Linked DNA regions of Homo sapiens: region 1 is linked to region 2. Evidence: fine-mapped expression QTL. A gene starts in region 2. The other region holds a variant in brackets. All regions are shown on one strand. Distances are between the middles of the regions. Region 1 overlaps MXRA7 (matrix remodeling associated 7). Region 2 holds the start of MXRA7 (matrix remodeling associated 7).

Region 1 (8,858 bases), 26 kb before region 2:
TCAGTGAGGGCAAAAGAGGGGAGACTGGAGTGAAAGTGAACTCTGCTTTTAAAATGTTCTTTTTATCTAAGGTGTGCAGGGTGTGTGGATAGCAAGTTTGAGTGGTAAGAAAAATCCCAGTCCAGGGTCTGAGCTCTACCTCTTAAAACTCTTCAGCTTAACAAAGTGACCCACAGGAACAGACATGAACATCTCTACACAGGGCAGGGCCAAAGGTGTTCCCAGGATCCTGCTAGCCAAGGGACAAGTCCTGATTGAGGGTCTAGAGCTCAGCAGATTTATGGAGGCAGCATGCACCCTGGGAGCCTGCCCAGACTCCTCTCTGGGGTTTCCGTTTTATCTCTCAAGCTTTTAAGATGCCAAAAGGAAAAGCCTTTAGGAGGACGCTAAGGATAACTTCGTTATTCTTCAGTTCTGTAAAGAGAAATGGGGAGAAAAAGATAATTTATTTTACTCATTCCATCCTGCACCATGGGCAAGGAAAGGGGGAAATGGGGACGAGGAAGGAGAATGTTTGGAATTGCAGAAGCTGCGCTAGACTCTGGTTTCTCAAACCACTGCTGATTTGCTTCTCATCGCTTGCAGCAAGACAGTCTGTGCCGCCAAGCCGGCCAGAGCTTGCAGAGCTCCCCTTGATCCCGCACAGAACCTGGCAGCCCACAGACCCTGTTCAGCCTCTGCAGGGTACTTAAGGAAGGAACTTGGGCATTTGAGTTGCCAAGGGCCTTTCTGATCTTGGGTTGTGTGGTTGTGCTGACAATATTCCTATCACCCTAGATAATTTCCCATTCCCGCTGGCTGAGTTTTGTCCCCTCGGGGGATACTGGCACCCTAGGATGCACGCTTCCAGATGGAGCCAACTGCATGCCCGTCTTTTATGAACCAAGACACACTGCCAGCCCTGGGACCACTGAGAACCCAGCAGGTCTGATCTTGTCCCTCTGACGCCCTCTCCTGGTGGTCACAGTCAGCACGCATTTCCAGCCTGAGCTGGAAATTCACACTGGCAGGTCTATTGTCTGTAGTTTCTTGCATACATCAGATGGAAGAACCAGAACTACCCCACAGCTGGGGTTCCTTGGCCTCCTCCTCCCCTTCCCTGTTTTACCACACTAGCACCTTCCTCTAGAGTCATGTCCATTTCCAGAGGAGTCAAGACAGCCCTGCAGACCTCAAATGGAGGGGTGGGTCCTGATCTATCAGAGCCAGCCCAGTCTATAGCCTGGGTTCATTTTCCCTCTGAGACCACAAGGTGGGAAGAAGTGATGGAGAGGAGCTGACAGCCGCGCCTGTTCTTTCTCCTGCCAAGCTGTGAAGCCAGCCAAGCCCTGCCAGCTTCCCTAGCTCTGGGGGAGGAGGAGGAGGCCTCTTGCTCAGGGGAGCTGTCACCAGCCTGCAAGCCCACTGTCCTAGCCACACTGTGAAACTGGAGGTGGCACTTCCCACAGCAGCTTCAGCGGAACCCAGGGACGCCACCAGAGGCATGAAGTGTGTGAAACTCCGGCCCGAGGGGAGAGCTGAGGAGGCGGGCAGACAGTGGCAAGCAGGATCTTAAGCAGCAGCTGCCTCTGGATTTACAGACCTGACCGCTTTCTGGCCCCAGGCGGAAGGAATTTGATCTGTGAGTAGTTCAAGGATGAGACTGACCACTTCAGCATGTCGGGGAACTAATTGGGGGCCTTCTGCTTCCAGTCCCACTTCCTAATTGTCATGAGAGCCTGTGAACTGAAGCTCCTGGGGAGTGCTGGAACTGGCAACCACTAAAGCTTCAGGTTCTAGATGCAGATCTGTTGGCTGAGCTAGTAAATTTAAAGTTAGGGGACGTGCAGCTTGTAGCTGCAACTCGACTGGACCCTGAGAGCTGGGAAAGGCATCAGAGGCATGGAGGCCGGGAGGGTGGAACCTGACAGGCGGAGAGAGAGCACCCTGCTAGCTGGCCTGTGGTTTTAGTGGTTTGATAACAACAGGCATGTTATTTTTCATACTGATGATTCTAGGGCGGTTCCCTGGACTTGGCTGGGACCAGAACTGTCTCACAGCTGCCAGCGCTCCCCACCCCCATGAGAACCATCGTGCTGAAGATGAAGAGCCAAAGCCAAACTGACCAGCCTCTGCAACCCCAAGCATCACCGTGTGAGGACAGCGTGATGTGGAGCCGCGGAGACCCCACGCAGTGCTGCGAGGGGCAACCACATGCAGGGGGGCAGAGGTGTGGGGGAGCAAGCAGATGCCACCGGCATGCCTAGGAGCCACAGGGAGCATGCGGGCTGGGCAGTGATGGGAATGAACGTGAACTCCAGTCCTGCCCCAAGAAGTCCTCCGGCCCCTCCTTCTCAATTCAGGGCACAAAGTGGTAACTGCAGCATGCAGAGGAGTCGAGGAGTCTTCCCTCGTCCCAGGAGCAGCACCTCGGGCACAGTCTCGGTCCCACAGAACAGCCAAGTGTGGGTTGGTGGTCTAGAGACCTCCAAAGATCCAGTGGGGGAAGGATGGGCAGCAGAGGGTCTACTCTCTGAAAATAAGGGGAAGGGATTTTCCCTCCCCACTGCCAAGGTCCCAGCTCTGGACGTGGGTGGCAGTGGCAGTTTCACCCCCAGCCGGAGGCCTGGTCTTTCTTGTTCTAAGAGGCCCTCCAGATCCATCTGCCTGAGCAGCCTCTGTCCCCAGGGACCTTCAAGGGCTGGCAGTTGTGTCCAGCCCCCTCTAGCCTCTGTCCAGGGACTGCAACCTTTTTCTGCAAACAGCCAGATACTACTTAGATTTGGGGGGCTGTGTGGTCTCTGCTGCAGTGACTCACCTCGGCCACTGCGGCACAAAGAGGCACAGACCACAGGAAAATGGGTGAGTGTTGCTACTACTGCCACGCTGGATTGGCACAGGCAGGTGGGGGATCAGATGTGGCCCGGCCGTTGTCTGCTAACCCTTGCCCTGATCCTAAGAACCTGCCTGTCTCACAGCTTGGGAGCACGGACCGTTCTCAGAGTATCTGCTGTGCACTGTGCAGAAGCTGCCTCATCTTCTCAGGGTGAGACCCAAGGCTGCAGGGTGACGACATCCACATTTCCGAAGCCTGAGGTCCCAGGGTGACAGTTCCCCCAGCCTTGCGAGGGGGCGCTAGCACCCCAACCTGCCGGCCCATTAGGCCCCCTCCAGGAACTCAGGGACTTAACTCCCCTCCAGGAACCTCTGCCCCCAGACGGGGCCTCTTCTGCCAGAGATTCCTCGTGCTTGAGAAGAATGAGAAGGGCTCAGGTGGGAAATGTATTAATCGGTTATGAAGGCGATGGAGGAGGGGAGGTTGAGGCCGCGTCAGTTGTTTGGGGGCACGTTAGCACGCAGTAGAAGGGGAGCACCACTAGTCTAAGAAATCAGTGTCCTTACCAAAAGGATTTGCAAGAATATTTGTGGCTCAGGACCTAAGGAACTTGCTACAGGGAAGTGAGGTCAGAGGTCAGCTCAATCCTGAAATATAAATGCAGCAAACCTGGTCATGCCAAGCGGCAGCATCCTCAGCACCTGAGGACTCGGGGCTCCTGCCAGGGCTCTTCCTCCTGGCTGTGCTTACACTGCCCGCCCCCCACCCACCCAGGGTGAAGAGCTTTCCTGCTGAGGGTCGAGAGCGCTGATGCCAGCAGCGGGAGGGGAGACAGGGCCTGTCACCGGCAGAGCAGCTGTGAGGTTAGAGGGCTGCCCGGCGGGTGGCTTGGCATGCAGCCATGAGAGGGCAGTTGAGTTCTGATTCCAAAATCATAAACCACCCCTCCTGCTCGGACCCTAGACCGCTGGTTTCTGCTGACAAGTAGGGGGTGATTCCCACAAGCTGCTCTGGGTCGCCAGGCTTGGAAAATGGCACAGCTACCACCTAGACTTCTGCTTTAACCAAAGGACTCCAGGCCACGCTGCAGAAGGGCAGCAGTGTGGGTGAGCACCAGGAGCCTGCTGCGCCTGGTGCAAAGGACTGTCCCTCTGCTGAGACCTCCCCAGCTGTCCCACTGTGCCCAGCGCACCCCTTCCCCGCCCAGCAGGATGGTGTGGAGGGAAAAGGTGGCGGGGTGCCCAGTGGCTGTGCAGGGGGTGTCCAAATGGGAAGGGGGAGCCAATTCCAACAACGAGAAGCCATAGCTGCACTGCCCGGAGCTACAAGGCGCTGCTGCAGGCGCCGGCCTGGGAGGCCGCTGAAGGATGAGCACCAAGAATCCGCTGTGTCCCGAAGGAGAAATGGAGAAATCAGCTCTGTTGGGGACTGTGTGTGTGAGTGACAGCCAGGTCTGCTCCAGGCTCTTTCCTGGCATCTCATTTCTTTAGATGGGGGCAGTGGGGTGTGGAGGGGGTGGGGGGGTGCAGTAAATGGGCTCTGTATCCCCCATCACCAGTGGCCTCCTTCTGGTCAGTGCCAGGGAGGGGTGCCAGGGGTGTGCGAGCCTGGCTGACCAGGGCAGGAAAGAACTCCTAAACTGGGAAGGTGGGGCGGTGGTTGGGCAGAGCGTGTAGGAGCCCCACCTCCTTTCTGGGCCCTTCTGCCAAGGGGCAGGAACATGAAGGGCTCAGAGGGGCACCCCCCTCCCCCAAGAGCCCGCCAGGCGCCAGCGAAGGGGCTGCAGCCTACCTCTGCTCCTCCTCCAGCTCCTCTTTGGTCATCATCTTCTTGTACTGGTTTCCCCTCAGCTTCCCGGGGCTGTATTTGAAGGAGAAGCCTTCTCCTGTGGAGGGGGGACCCAGTAAGTGCCAGGAGTGCTGTAGAGGCTGGCCCCACAAACCCCGGCCCCCTTTCCCTAGGTTTAAAAAGAAACACCTCAAGCAGAGGCCACATCTGGCTATCAGAGACATCTCACCCCAGCGCCTATACCCCCTCTCGTTCCATAGCTTTCCCTTAAATCCTACAACGAGACAGCCAGAGAGAAAGCAGTCCTACTCCTAGTCCACAGCTGTCTCCAGATGCCACATCCCTCCCAACATCTGCAGTGCTCTGCCTTGCCCTGGCCCTGCCCAGCAGGTCCTCTCGGCTACTGAGCTCAGAGGCGACAACTCCGGCAAGCAGAGCACAGCTCATCTTGGGACACACACCACGCCTGCCTGGGCTTGGGGAGGCTTGTGTCATCCCCCCACCCCCTGTGGCTATTGGAAATCTGAAAACACGCATCCAGGCAGCCCACAGTGGCCAGGCCAGGGATGCGGGATTTGCTGCAGCAGGTTTGACGTGTGTAC[C/T]GCTGAAGAGGCAGAGCCCGATTTGCCAGTCCCCGAGGGGAGACCCCCCATTGCTGCCTGCAAAAAACGGACAGATCTCGAGGCCTGAAGAGGGCACATGGATGGGTAGGTGGTGGGCACAGAGGAAGCCAGGACCTGTGGCCTGGAGTGGACACAGGCTCCGGGCACATGAGCCACGGTGAGGAGAGAAAAGCTGAGCTTCCAGAGGGAAAAGCCCCATGGGGGAGCAACCTCTTGGTTCCTGAATCCAGCAGGTGTCGGGCAGAGCTGGCTGGCCTCTTATCGACCTCCACTAACTAAAGGACCCAGTGAGGGAGGCATAGAGAGATCCTCAGCTGCTATTCTGGAAGTGCTGCCCTCTCTGTCCCTCCATATCCTGTCCAGCAGCCCGAAAAGCCAGGCCCCTCCCCTCTAGCTTGCAGCCTTCATGCTACCGGATAGGCTGATGTGGACCGATGGGGAGGCGGGGGGGCTCTCAGGGTGAAAGGAAGAAGGTTCTAGATGCGAATTCAGAACCCAAACATCTGGTTGGGTGTGGTGGCTCATGCCTGTAATCCCAGCACCTTGGGAGGCCAAGGCAGGTGGATCACTTGAGGCCAGGAGTTCGAGACCAACCTGGCCAATGTGGCAAAACCCCGTCTCTACTAAAAATACAAAAAATTAGCCGGGCGTGGTGGCAGGCGCCTGTAATCCCAGCTACTCAGGAGGCTGAGGCAGGAGAATCGCTTGAACCCGGGAGGCAGAGGTTGCAGTGAGCCGAGATCGCGCCACTGTACTCCAGCCTGGGCAATAGAGTAAGATTCCAGTATCCCCCTACCCCCCAAAAAAAGAAAACATACAAAATCCTGCCTTGGTCCCAGTCTTAGGTTTCAATTTATGGGGCAAGTCTGATTAGTTTTGTTTTCTGAGCCAGACAGAACAAACGACTTGAAAAGGATTTCGCTCAGTCACATGCAGTGCACCAGGCAGCGCATCCAGTTTTGCTAGACCAGAATTCAACGTGACAGCCTCCGAGGGACGGGGGAGGTTTCTTCCTCCAGTCTCCTGTGAATTCACCTAGTCGCTCAGGGAAGTCATTTTAGCGACACTAATAATTAACCTCTGAGGCTGCCTCGTACTGCAGAGGGGCTGGAGGTGCTCACACATTCTTCCAACAGCTGGAGCCATAAACCTTTCCTTTCCCTGCCTTGCTAGAGATGGCAGGAGGCTAAGATGGCAGGAGGCGCTGGGGGTGGGGGATGTTCAGGAGCAGCGGTGCAGATAAGGGGGGAGGCTGGTGACAGTGCTGGGGGACTGTGCCCTCTGGCAGCTATGCCAGGGAGAGGGGTCTGCGAGCCTCTCTCCTTGTCCTTGCCAAAGGGCCTCCCTCCCGTGTCCCCAAGTCACTAACAGGATCCCTGCATCCCTTCAGCTGTCTCAGGCCACATGGCAGGGACAGATGCCAGGGCCATGGCTGCGGTGAGTCCCCAGTCCCCAAAAGCAGGGAGCAAGGGTCCTTCCTGGTAAGGGACTAATGTCCCCACCTGCAGCCCACCGCCTGCACCCAAGCTTCATTCTCCCCTCCTGCTTCAGGCTGTGCTGATGGAAACCAAGGCACTGCCTCAGGGGAAGCTCTGCACCCCAGCCCAGCCTGCCCGCAGGAGCTGGTTCCTACATTCCTGAAACCTTCTCTTTCCACTGCTCCTGCCAGCAGCCGACTTAACATCACAAAAGCAGACTTGCTTTTTTAAAATTATGAAATATTTCAAACATACAAAAATGCAGAAAGCACTAATCCTCCCTGTGCTTGCCACACAGAGCCAACAAACGCTGACATCTTGCATGTCTGCCTCCGCTTTCTTTTTTAGAGAAATAAGTGGATGGACCCAGCAGAAGCCACTCCATGTTTGGTTCCGCCTCTGTCTGTCCTGGCCGGGTCCGATCTGGCAGTGTCTCCCCTGTTCTCGGTCACTCCCTTTCTCCTCTCAGTCTCATGGCTGGGGCCTGTGGCCAGTCAGCCAGAGCTGCTTAGAAAGCAGGCGTGTGCCCTCCTGGGGCCTTCGTTCTGAAGAAGGCACGGGGGAGGCCGTGTGAGTGGTTTTCGTCTCAGTAAAATAGGTCAGAGATGTTTGGAGAGAATCGTGAAATGTACAGCGCGGTCACAAAAGGGGAGTTAGGAGGCAGCGCAGGACAGAGCCAGGCAGGGCGTGTAGTGTGTTCCCAAGAGGGGCCCCGGGATGGGAAAGCCAAGCCCCAAAGTGCAATGGGGGTGAGGGAGGGCTACAGGCAGGCCAGGGCAGGACATCCATGGCGCCAGACTCTACCTCTCATGCCCCACTCAGGCCACTGTCCCACCCCATCCCTCCCCTCGGCACTCGAACCCCAGCTCCTGTGATCCCCAGCAGGACACAGACCACCCCCGACACTGTCAGGCCCCCTCATGAGCGCAGAGGTCCCACTCACCGTCCTCCTCCTCAGGCCCTTCCGATGATGGCCCCTTCTCACCATCCAAGTCCTGCTCCTCTTCCTGCAAGACAAGGACAGGGTCAGTGCCCTTGGCACAGACTGGGTGATGGGAAGTGGTGGGGGGGCAGAAGGTAGGGGAGACAGAGGAGGCCCTCGAAGGTCCAGCCTGCCCACGCCCTGTGGCAGCGCCTGCCCTGTGGTCATGGTCAACCAGCAGGTGGGGGCTGTGTACAAACGATGGGCCAAAGTGACTCGGCTCACAAATGCTGAGCTGAGGCGTGTTCTTGACTGTGCACCCCAAGCCCTCGGCCTTGGCCTTTCCCAGGTGGGTGCCTGTTGAGGCTTCTGTGTGCCATTTGGAGAAGTGGGCCCAGGACTCCCACTGCGACGCTGCGGCCAGCAGACAAAGGGTGCAAGAGGAAAGCTGGCTGGGGTGTCTGTCTGGGACCAGGGCCAGGCAGCATGGCCATCGCAGCCTCTGGCTTTGCTTCCTTCTATGTTGTTTTCCATCCCCAACTCTCTCAGTGTCCATGTTCCCAAAACTGGAGCCCCACCTCTTCAGCCAGTTCTCTCCCACACAGAGACACAATAAACAGATGATCAGAGGAATGGCCCGGGATGGCCTTGGTGGAAGGAAGAAGTGACTTCAGCTTGCAGGAATGTCAGAGGATGAGAGCGACGTGCCGTGCCCATGGGCTCTGTGGGATTGAAGGTCATGGGGAGGGGACATGGGAGCCCCAGGAACTTCAACTTGGAAGCCCAGTGGGTAGATGTGGAAATGAATGAATGAGCAGCCCCAGCTGATCCCATGGAGCCCAGCCAGCGTCGGCCGCTCACGGGAGGCTCCCTAACAAAACACTGAGCTGTGCCGGGAGGCAAAGTTTTTACAAGCCCCACAGCGGGTCGGAAGTGGCAAACCCAGAGGGGCCTTGAGCTCCTCTGAGTGACTTTTTGTTTGTTTGGTTTCTGTTTTTTTCTGAGTGTGTTTCTGAGACAGAGTTTTGGCTCTTGTTGCCCAGGCTGGCGTGCAGTGGCGCGATCTCGGCTCACTGCAACGTCTGCCTCCTGGGTTTAAGCGATTCTCCTGCCTCAGCCTCCCGAGTAGCTGGGATTACGGGCGCCCGCCACCCAAGCCCAGCTAATTTTTTTGTGTTTTCAGTAGAGATGGCATGTCACCATGTTGGCCGGGCTGGTCTCGAACCCCTGAC
Region 2 (8,858 bases):
AAGGCCCACTCTGCCGTCACAGAGGCCCACTCTGCCATCACAGAGGCCCACGCTGCCGTCACAGAGGCCCACGCTGCCGTCACAGAGGCCCACGCTGCCATCACAAAGGACCACGCTGCCATCACAGAGGCCCACTCTGCCATCACAGAGGCCCACGCTGCCGTCACAGAGGCCCACGCTGCCGTCACAGAGGCCCACACTGCCATCACAAAGGACCACACTGCCATCAAAAAGGACCACACTGCCATCAAAAAGGACCACACTGCCATCAAAAAGGACCACACTGCCATCACAAAGGCAGGAGAGATGATGGGGAAGTTCACCTGCTCCTGGGTCATTCTGGGAAGGCTGGGGTCTCTGTAGCTTCCAGAGCCCACACCTATGGTGAACAGGTTGGTGAGGGCAGAGGACACAGGTGGACCTGACAGCAGGGTGACTTCAGGGGAACCAGGGCCAAGTCACATGGTTAAGACAGACAGATGAAGGCTGTGCTACCCACTCAGACCACCACCTCCAGAGTGTCTGAAAAACCAACCCCTTTCCCAAGAAATTTCCCAAAGAAGAATGTTGGCTTCTTTGTTCCAACATTCTCTTTTGAAAAATTCCAAACCTACAGAAAAGTTGAAATAATAATACAATGAATACCATACACCCTTCACCTAGATTCACCAATGGTTAACATTTTGCCATCTTTGCATTCTCTCTCTATACACACACACACTGTGTGTGTGTGTGCATGTAACTATTTGAATCATGACATGTCATCCCAAAATGTTTCAGCCTGCATCTTCCTAAGGATAAGGACATTGTTTACACAGCCATCTGCCGGTATCGTACACAAAAAATTCAGCGTTGATTCAATAAGCTTACCTAACACAGCCATTCATTTAAAAAATGTCTCAATTATCTCCAGTATGTCCTTTATAGCTCCCTTCTCTGATGGAGAATCCAATCAAGGATCAAGATTGTATTTATTTGTCATATTGCTTTAATCTCCTAAATCCCAATTAAATCTAGAAGAGTCTCTGTGTGCTTCATGACACCGGCCCACTGCCTTGCAGGAAGTCCCTACTCTTTTTTTTTTTTTTTTTTTTTTTTTTTTTTTGAGATGGAGTCTCGTTCTGTTGCCCAGGCTGAAGTGCAGTGGCACGATCTTGGCTCAACTGCAACCTCAGCCTCCTGGGTTCAAGTGATTCTCCTGCCTCAGTTTCCTGAGTAGATGGGATGACGTGCACGCCACCATGCCTGGCTAATTTCTGTATTTTTAGTAGAGACGGGGTTTCGCCATGTTGGCCAGGTTGGTCTCGAACTCCTGACCTCAGGTGATCCTCCTGCCTCGGCCTCCCAAAGTGCTGGGATTACAGGTGTGAGCCATCGCGCCCGGGCTCTAGTCTGTCTATGAGCAGAGCTAGGCCCCAAGTACCGAGATACTTGAGTCCTGGCACAGACAAGAAATTTAACTCTAGTGCTATTCAAATGACCCTTGACGCTTTGCCAATTACCAATGTTTGGGAATCCGACCATCCAGCCTTGCTCCAATCCACAAGTCCATTAGGTAAGAGGCCTGGCAATCCTAAAACCCCAACCTACACAGGAGCACCAAGAAAGCCCTGAGTCCTGGCCTGAAAAGAGGCCGGCTCCTGTTCTTGACTTCGTTGGCTCATGATTCTTTGCGTGAACAGGCCTTGCCTATAATGCTTCCTCACAGCCCACCCTGTGCTAATCCTTAGGAGAGAAAAGAGGTTCTAGCAGTATCATTCCGCTTCTCCTCAGCCTCCCTGCCCTGGCCTGTGCTGCCCTGGGGAAGCAAGAGCTGCACTGATCTCATCCCCATTTCTTTGGTCCATTTCCAGGGTCTCGGCCTATAGTAGCCCCTCCCCACTACTTTGTCCTTGGCCAAAGAGGGCACCGTGCACTAGGGGACGCTCCTGAGCGATCCCCAATAGCAGCTGAAGGCTGCTTCCCGGGGCGAGAGATCCTTCTCAATAATCAGCTTTGTAGTCAGAGGCAGCAGCTGCCCCAGCCCGCCCAGGCCTCCCTGGGAAGGGAGAGGACTGGATTAGAAAGGAGGCAGTTAATGGAAAATGAAGAGGGAGGGGAGAGGTGAGTTACACGCTGCTCCCCAGGGCAGTGACTTCCGAGCTAACAGCAGGTGGAGTTGCCCTCCTCCCTCGCTGTTGGTGGGGTTCGCTTAGGGACGGAGGGAGAAGGAGGCTGGCAGAGGGCATAGCCCCACTTCCCAACCCTGATTTGAGTTATCTTCCCCAGGGGGCCTTTCTCCCTATCTGTCCTCCAAGCCCCAGCAGTGTGATCATCAGAAGAAAGCACTGGAAGCTCTTGGAAACGCTGGAGTCCACTTCAGGACAATTTGTTTTCCTTTCTTTTTTTTCTTGTCACTGACTCGAAGCTCATCAAGACAATTTCTAAGCAGCTTCTTAGGTTAATGCCACCACTGGGAGTGGGTGGGATGACACAATATCTGTGTCCCCACAGCACCTGGCTTAATGTTTGCAGGCAGGAGTTTTGGGGGAGCTTTGGCCAGCTCAGGAAGGCCTGGGGACTTGAACCCAAAGGGGAAGGGCACTGACTTCAATTGAATTCTCCTGTGGGGTGGGTTCTCTCTGGAGGGTGCCTTAGCGGGAGGACAGACACAAGCCTCAAGTCATCCTCACTGGCACCTATGTCATGGGGGCTGCCTGGCACGCGAACCCCCATACTGCCTTGTCCTTCAGAGCACCCATTCAGCTTCAGAGGACGTGCATTCACCCAGACAGTGGCAAATTATGCGAGTGGCCCTATTTAAACACCACTGAACCTATTCCTGTAGGTACCATGTGCTGAGAGCCGAAAGCCTTGTAGAAAGTTCTTTAAGCGCTGTGCCCCACAGGATTGAGCTAAGACAGGGCGCCGCTAAAGGACATTTTGCACTTCAGTCCAGAGCCTGGTGTGGGTGATAAAGGGCCAGCCCTGTAAGGCCAGGACTGACTGAGTGTGCATGACGGCTCCAGAACTGTCTAAAGGCCTCTCCTGCTCCCGCGAGACCTCGATGGAGGCAGGAATCCCAAATATGGGAGCAAACACAACAGATCAGCACATGTCCAAACCGCGCCCCCTCCACCATCACCGCGTGAGGTCTGGAAGCCCACCCCAAGCAAGAACGGCAGGGCCTGCCCCTGCTCCACCCCATTAAATGTGGCTGGTTAGAATCCTCTCTAATGACACAATTAGTCACCCACTTGTCAAGCAAAGCGCCTGCTCAGAGGGGGTCTGGCGCACTTACTCAGCAAAGAGAAATGCCTCTGAGCACAGCCTGGCTGCCTCCTCCTCCCCCGAAGGGCTTCTCTCCAGGGTAAACCATTGTGTCCAGCACAGGACAGAGTGGGCACGCAGACACGCAGGCACGCTGACAATGCGCATCCCGGCTCTCCTCCCTTCCAAGAAAAGGAGCTCAGGGGTAAGAACAAGGGATTACAATCCGACTCGGAGACCCTGGCGGTGGCCTGGACCGGCCAAGCGTGGTGAACTCCAGGGAACATGGGCACACAGTGTAGGGGCTGGGATGAGTGGATGAGGGAAATCCGACTCCTCTCAGATATCCACAGGCAGGACAAGGTGGCCAAGGCCGAGCTGATGGACAGCATGGCGGGAGGCCTGGGGCAGAGGCAGGGAGGGCCGCTTTGGGGTGCTCACTGGTGCTCCAGGAGGGCTTTATCCTGCATCTTCACTCCATCCAGGCCCAGCTTACCTACAACCCGGGGGAGTGGGGGTAGGAGGGTGTTAGATGTGTAGCTTGAAAACGACAATAAAAAGGACTGCTGGGATCGGGTGCCTTTTCTTTCAGTCCCAGCCCACGGGCTTCACAAAACGCCACAGCACTGACTCTGAAATCTGGACTTCAAATTGGCTGAAAAAGAAAAGCCAGCTTTCCTCCCTCGCCCCCCGAAAGTCCTACTTTTTAAACATCAAGATAACTCTCATGGCAGGCCTGGAAATAAGCCACAGGCACGTGGATTTGGGAACCGGTGGGCGGGAGGGGTCAGAAGTGGGTGAGGAGCAAAATTCCAAGCCCTGGTCCCGAGGCCTGGGAGCCAGCAGCTGCGGAGCACGCCCTGGGCTGGGAGAGGCCGAGGGGAGGGGAGAGCAAAACACCTCCAAACAAACTCCTTCGGGCTCGCCCCTCGCCACACTTTCTGGGGGAGGGCGGCGAGTTTGCGGGGCTGCGGCTTAGCATGGCGGGACCTGCATTTCCTGCGGGCCGCGGGTTCTGCGCTTCCTGGGGGCAGCCTGGGCTGGAGGCCGCGGCCCCGCTCCCTGGCTCGGCGGGGAACGGCAGCGGCAGCCGGAGCCCCGGGGGTGGGGAGGGGGCCGCGAGGGCCCCGGTGCGTACCTGCCTCGCCTCCACCGCCTGCTCCTCCGCCTCCGCTGGCGCCGCCGCGGGATCCCCTGGCCCTTCGGGCTCCCCCGGTCCCGCAGGCTCCCCGAGCTCCCCCAGCCCCGCGGGCTCTCCAGGCTCCTCCGGCCCCGCGGGCGAGGCCGCCGGCTCGGGGGCGCAGGGGCGGGACGGCGCCGGGGCCCCGGTGGCCTCGGCCGGGGGCGCGGGTTCCGGGGGCGCGCGGGCAGGCTCCGGGCTCGCGGCCGCCCCACGCCGCACCAGTAGCCAGGCGAGCAGAAGGGCCAGCGCGGTGGCCAGCGCAGGCAGCGCGGCCAGTAGCTCGGCCGGCGCCTCCATCGCGCCGCGGCCGCCGAGTGCGGGCCAGCTGGGACCCCGAGGGAGCCCGCCGCGCCCCGTCGCCGCGCCCGGTCGCCGCGCCCCGCCTCGGGGCGGAGCCCCCATCGCCGCGCCCCGCCCCCGCCCCCTCCGGCCCCGGGAGGGTGACGCACAGGCTGCGGGCGGGGGTGTTGAGGGGGCAGAGCCCTGACCACCTGGGAGGCACAGGAGGGCCAACCCCTGCCCGGCCTGGGCAGCCTTGACGCTTTGGGGCACAATTTAGCTCAGGTTCAATTTGAAATACTGTATGAGGTGCCCTTAGGTTGTCATCTTTGGCCTTAGTACGGCGGTTCGTCTTAGAGCATTTTGGAAATGTGGGAATGCAGAGAGACAAGCAAACCCGGGAAGCTTCATGGAAACGGCAGCCTGGATTGGCTTGTAAAGCAATCATAATGCCGGATTACGTTCAGCCACTGCCGTTTTTATAGGCATGTCAGGAGTTGCTTTTAATCCTCAGGGTTGCCTTAATGCACTTTCACAGAGGACATCTCCAGATCCCGGCCAGTGAATGCTCCCTTCGGAGCTGAGGCCAGCAGCCTTCAACACAGGCCTCCCTGTTAACAGTAACATGGCTCCCCCGCCCCTAGACCTGAAATTCAGCTGCAGGTCCTTGGTCAACGCTATTCCTCTTACCAGACTTTCTTCTTTGCACAATTCCAGAATGCATGCAGGGTGGGAGGGTACAATGAAGGAAATGAAGGCTATTGTTTTTGTTTCTCCAGATCCTCCCAGGCCTCTGTTGCTGAACAGTGGATTTTGAGATAAACACGTTGTAACCAAAAACATACTTTCCTACCACTCCCCACCCACTCTTTAGTTATTTTAAATAAACACAGGACGGGCATGTCAGGTATCACGCCAAACATAAGGCCTAATGTTAAAAAAAACACGGTTCCAGTTTTTGCTGAGGATGCCTTTAATACTTTTTTGGGAATATTACAGTGCCTGAGCTGATCTGTGATATAAACCAGATATTAGATGGAGTGCTTCTTTTTAAATGAAGATACACAAACGAGACCCCTCAGCAACAGGGAGAGCTGAATTCTGCTGCACTGCACGATATTAAGCGGGCCATGCACTTCCTTTTAGTGGTGGTTGATGAAAAGAGCCTATAAACTATAAAATGTGAAATAGGCTTTATCTACGGGCGACTAGCTTTTAACCACTGTGGAAGTTTCAGCCAGTGTATGGGCCTATTTTTTTTCTTTTGAGATGGAGTCTTATTCTGTTGCCCAGGCTGGAGTGCAGTGGCGCAATCGCGGCTCACTGCAACCTCCACCTCCCGGGTTCAAGCGAAACTCCCACCTCAGCCTCCTGAGTAGCTGGGATTACAGGCGCCCACCACCATGCCCGGCTAATTTTTTTCTGTTTTTAGTAGACAGGGTTTCACCGTGTTGGCCAGACTGGTCTTGAACTCCTGACCTCAGGCAATCTGCCTGCCTCAGCCTCCCAAAGTGTTGGGATTACAGGCGTGAGCCTCCGCGCCCAGCCAATTTTTTTTTTTTTTTTTTAAAGAGACAGGGTCTTTCTTTCTTTTTTTTTTTTTAAAGAGACAGGGTCTCACTATGTTGCCCAGGCTGGAGTGCAGTGGCTATTCACAGGCATGATCATAGCTTTCTGCAGCCTCGACATCCTGGGCTCAAGTGATCCTCCTGCCTTAGCCTCTTGGGCAGCTGGGATTACAGGTGTGCATCAATGCTCCTGGCCCAGGGCCTTAATTTTGTGCTCCATCCCATTGTTTTAAAGTGTAAATACATTTTTTTAAAGTCCTGTTCTGCTGACAAAGTACATTGTTGACTTTCAAATGAGTAAGAAAGAAAATAAGGACAAAACAATGCCAAAAACACAACTCCAAATCATGTTGCTTTATTTAAAATGATGAACAAGTTTCACCCAAGTGAAAGTTTAAAATACCAACCCAATAGCAGATCCACAGGCTTTCATGGCAGACCCCATGGCTAGACGGACGCAGAACTAGGAGACTGCTCAGTGTTCTGACAACTCCAGGAGGCACGAGTGTGCAGAAGACAGTCCCAGTTCTTCTGTAGCATCCAGTCACTTTGGAGACAGCTGGCCAGGGCTAGCTCTCCTCCCAGGAGGTTCACTGGGGCTTAGATGACATTTCTTTTTTTTTAAAGACAGAGTCTCGGTCTGTCACCCAGGCTGGAGTGGCTTGATCTCAGCTCACTGCAACCTCTGCCTCCTGGGTTCAAGTGATTCTCCTGCCTGAGTTGACCAAGTAGCTGGGACTACAGGCATGTGCCACCACACCTGGCTAATTTTTGTATTTTTAGTAGAGACGGGGTTTCACCGTGTTGGCCAGGCTGGTCTTGAACTCCTGACCTCAAGTGATCCACCTGCCATGGCCTCCCAAAGTGCTGGGATTACAGGGGTGAGCTACGGCGCCTGGCCGAAATTTCTGAACAATGAGACAAAGTTGAGAGCCACCGCCTGGGGGTGCAAGCTCACCTAGTTTTGCTGCATAGGATGTCACATCTTGACACAAGCTAGTGGGAGGGGAGTGTGGAAGAAGCCGCCAGACTCCACTTCAAATCTACCAGCAATACCAGTACACACATCAAAAACAACTTACTCGTGGAAATACTACAGACAATCTAAAGAACCTACAGCTGGGGCATCCTTATACGCCTTCCTCCTACACAGCATTTTTTACATTTACTGCAAAAATTTTGTTCCATCCTATACTCGTCTAAAGTCCTAAATCCAAGGCTCAGTCTCTAGTAAGCTTATAAAGCATTTGCACCAGCAACCTTCCCACAGATCCTTAGTTTTGCTACTTTATGAAGAAGCTGTTACTACCTTAAGTATACATTGGTGTTAATTATGCTCTTTCATGTAGATCCGTTACACCTGCATTTAAGAAGGTCTGCACTTTCTTCTACCTGCCCTCACCAGCGGCCCTGTGAACAGCCGCAACAGCCGCACATTCACTGTCCATTAAGCTTGTGGAGCTTGTCAGGGACCTGGGCTTGTCACCGTTATCTCCAGCACCTCAAGAGCAGTGCCTGGCCCTCAAACACCTATTGAACGCTTGAATTATTAAGACACGGACAGCTGCAAGAATACAGCAAAATGTGAATGTCCCTCTTTTCAGTGGCTCTCCCCTCAAGGATGTCACCCTAAACATCCCAGTACCACTAATGGCAGAGGCATGTGTGTGAAGCATGGATTCTTCCAGCTGATGGTGAAGCCTCATCCCCAAAGACCCAGGGTCCTCCTGATGTTCTAGGTCCCCAACTCTTCTCTCTCCCACTCTGGTCCTTCCATCAGAAGTTAATAATCCAAGATCCCTTCTTCCAGGACCCAGCTCTTTGGTTTTAAGATCTGCTGTCATCTTGGAGAATCATCCCTGAAAATAATCTAACATTATCTCCTTCACTTTACTGTTGTTGGCACCATTCAATGGAGTAGCTCACGCCAGATGGGAAGAGGAGTTAACTTCTGAACAAGTGGTCTCTGGGTACCCACTCTTCCTAGTCTACCTTGGCCACCCGCCACCACTCCACTCCTTTTCCACACACGGTTTCCCCACCTTGCCCCTGTTGTGCTTACATAACGGACAGCCTGGCTAGCCCACAGAGACAGTAACGGGGGTTGGGGAATAGGGCTGCTGAATCCCTGGCCTGGCAGGAATAAACAAAGCATGTCCCAGGAGCACAGAATCTGTACTATCCAGACACTGTACTATCCAGAGCTGACTTGGGCCTATCAGATATGTTATTCCCCTCATTTCTGGAATACTGTTATCAAACAGGAATCAACTTTAGCATCTGGAGAAAGAAAACTGGGTGGCTAATCTTTATTTTCTAGATTATTATTTTTTTGAGAGATGGGATCTCACTATGTTGCCCAGACTGGTCTTGAACTCCTGGACTCAAGCAATCCCCCTGCCTCAGCTTCCCAAAGTGCTGGGATTACAGGTGTGAGCCACTGCACCTGGCCTTGGTGGCTAATTTTTAAAATTCAAAATTTCTGCTCCCCTATCCAGACCACTGGCAACGTGTCCTACCACGCCCCCTGGTGGCAAAGAGCCTTTTTGGGCTGTTTTTTATTTTAAACTGAAGTTTAG

What was found.
Region 1: its variant is fine-mapped to the expression of MXRA7 in lung (TOPMed, PIP above 0.99).

The regions. Positions count from the first base shown.
Region 1 is chr17:76,680,466-76,689,323 of GRCh38, forward strand. It overlaps MXRA7 (matrix remodeling associated 7), which reads right to left. Exons shown (of 4, transcript NM_198530.4): 2 at 7,648-7,711; 3 at 4,607-4,700; 4 at 1-414. The coding sequence ends at 402. Among named protein-coding and RNA genes, the nearest start is that of MXRA7, 26 kb to the right of the region's middle. RefSeq lists enhancers at 1,964-2,510, 3,604-4,148, 6,131-6,926. The variant C/T (reference allele first, on the strand shown) is at 5,206.
Region 2 is chr17:76,706,218-76,715,075 of GRCh38, forward strand. MXRA7 (matrix remodeling associated 7) reads right to left here and starts at 4,748. Exons shown (of 4, transcript NM_198530.4): 1 at 4,388-4,748. The coding sequence starts at 4,729. It also overlaps a transcript of JMJD6 not described here. RefSeq lists a silencer at 4,770-4,979.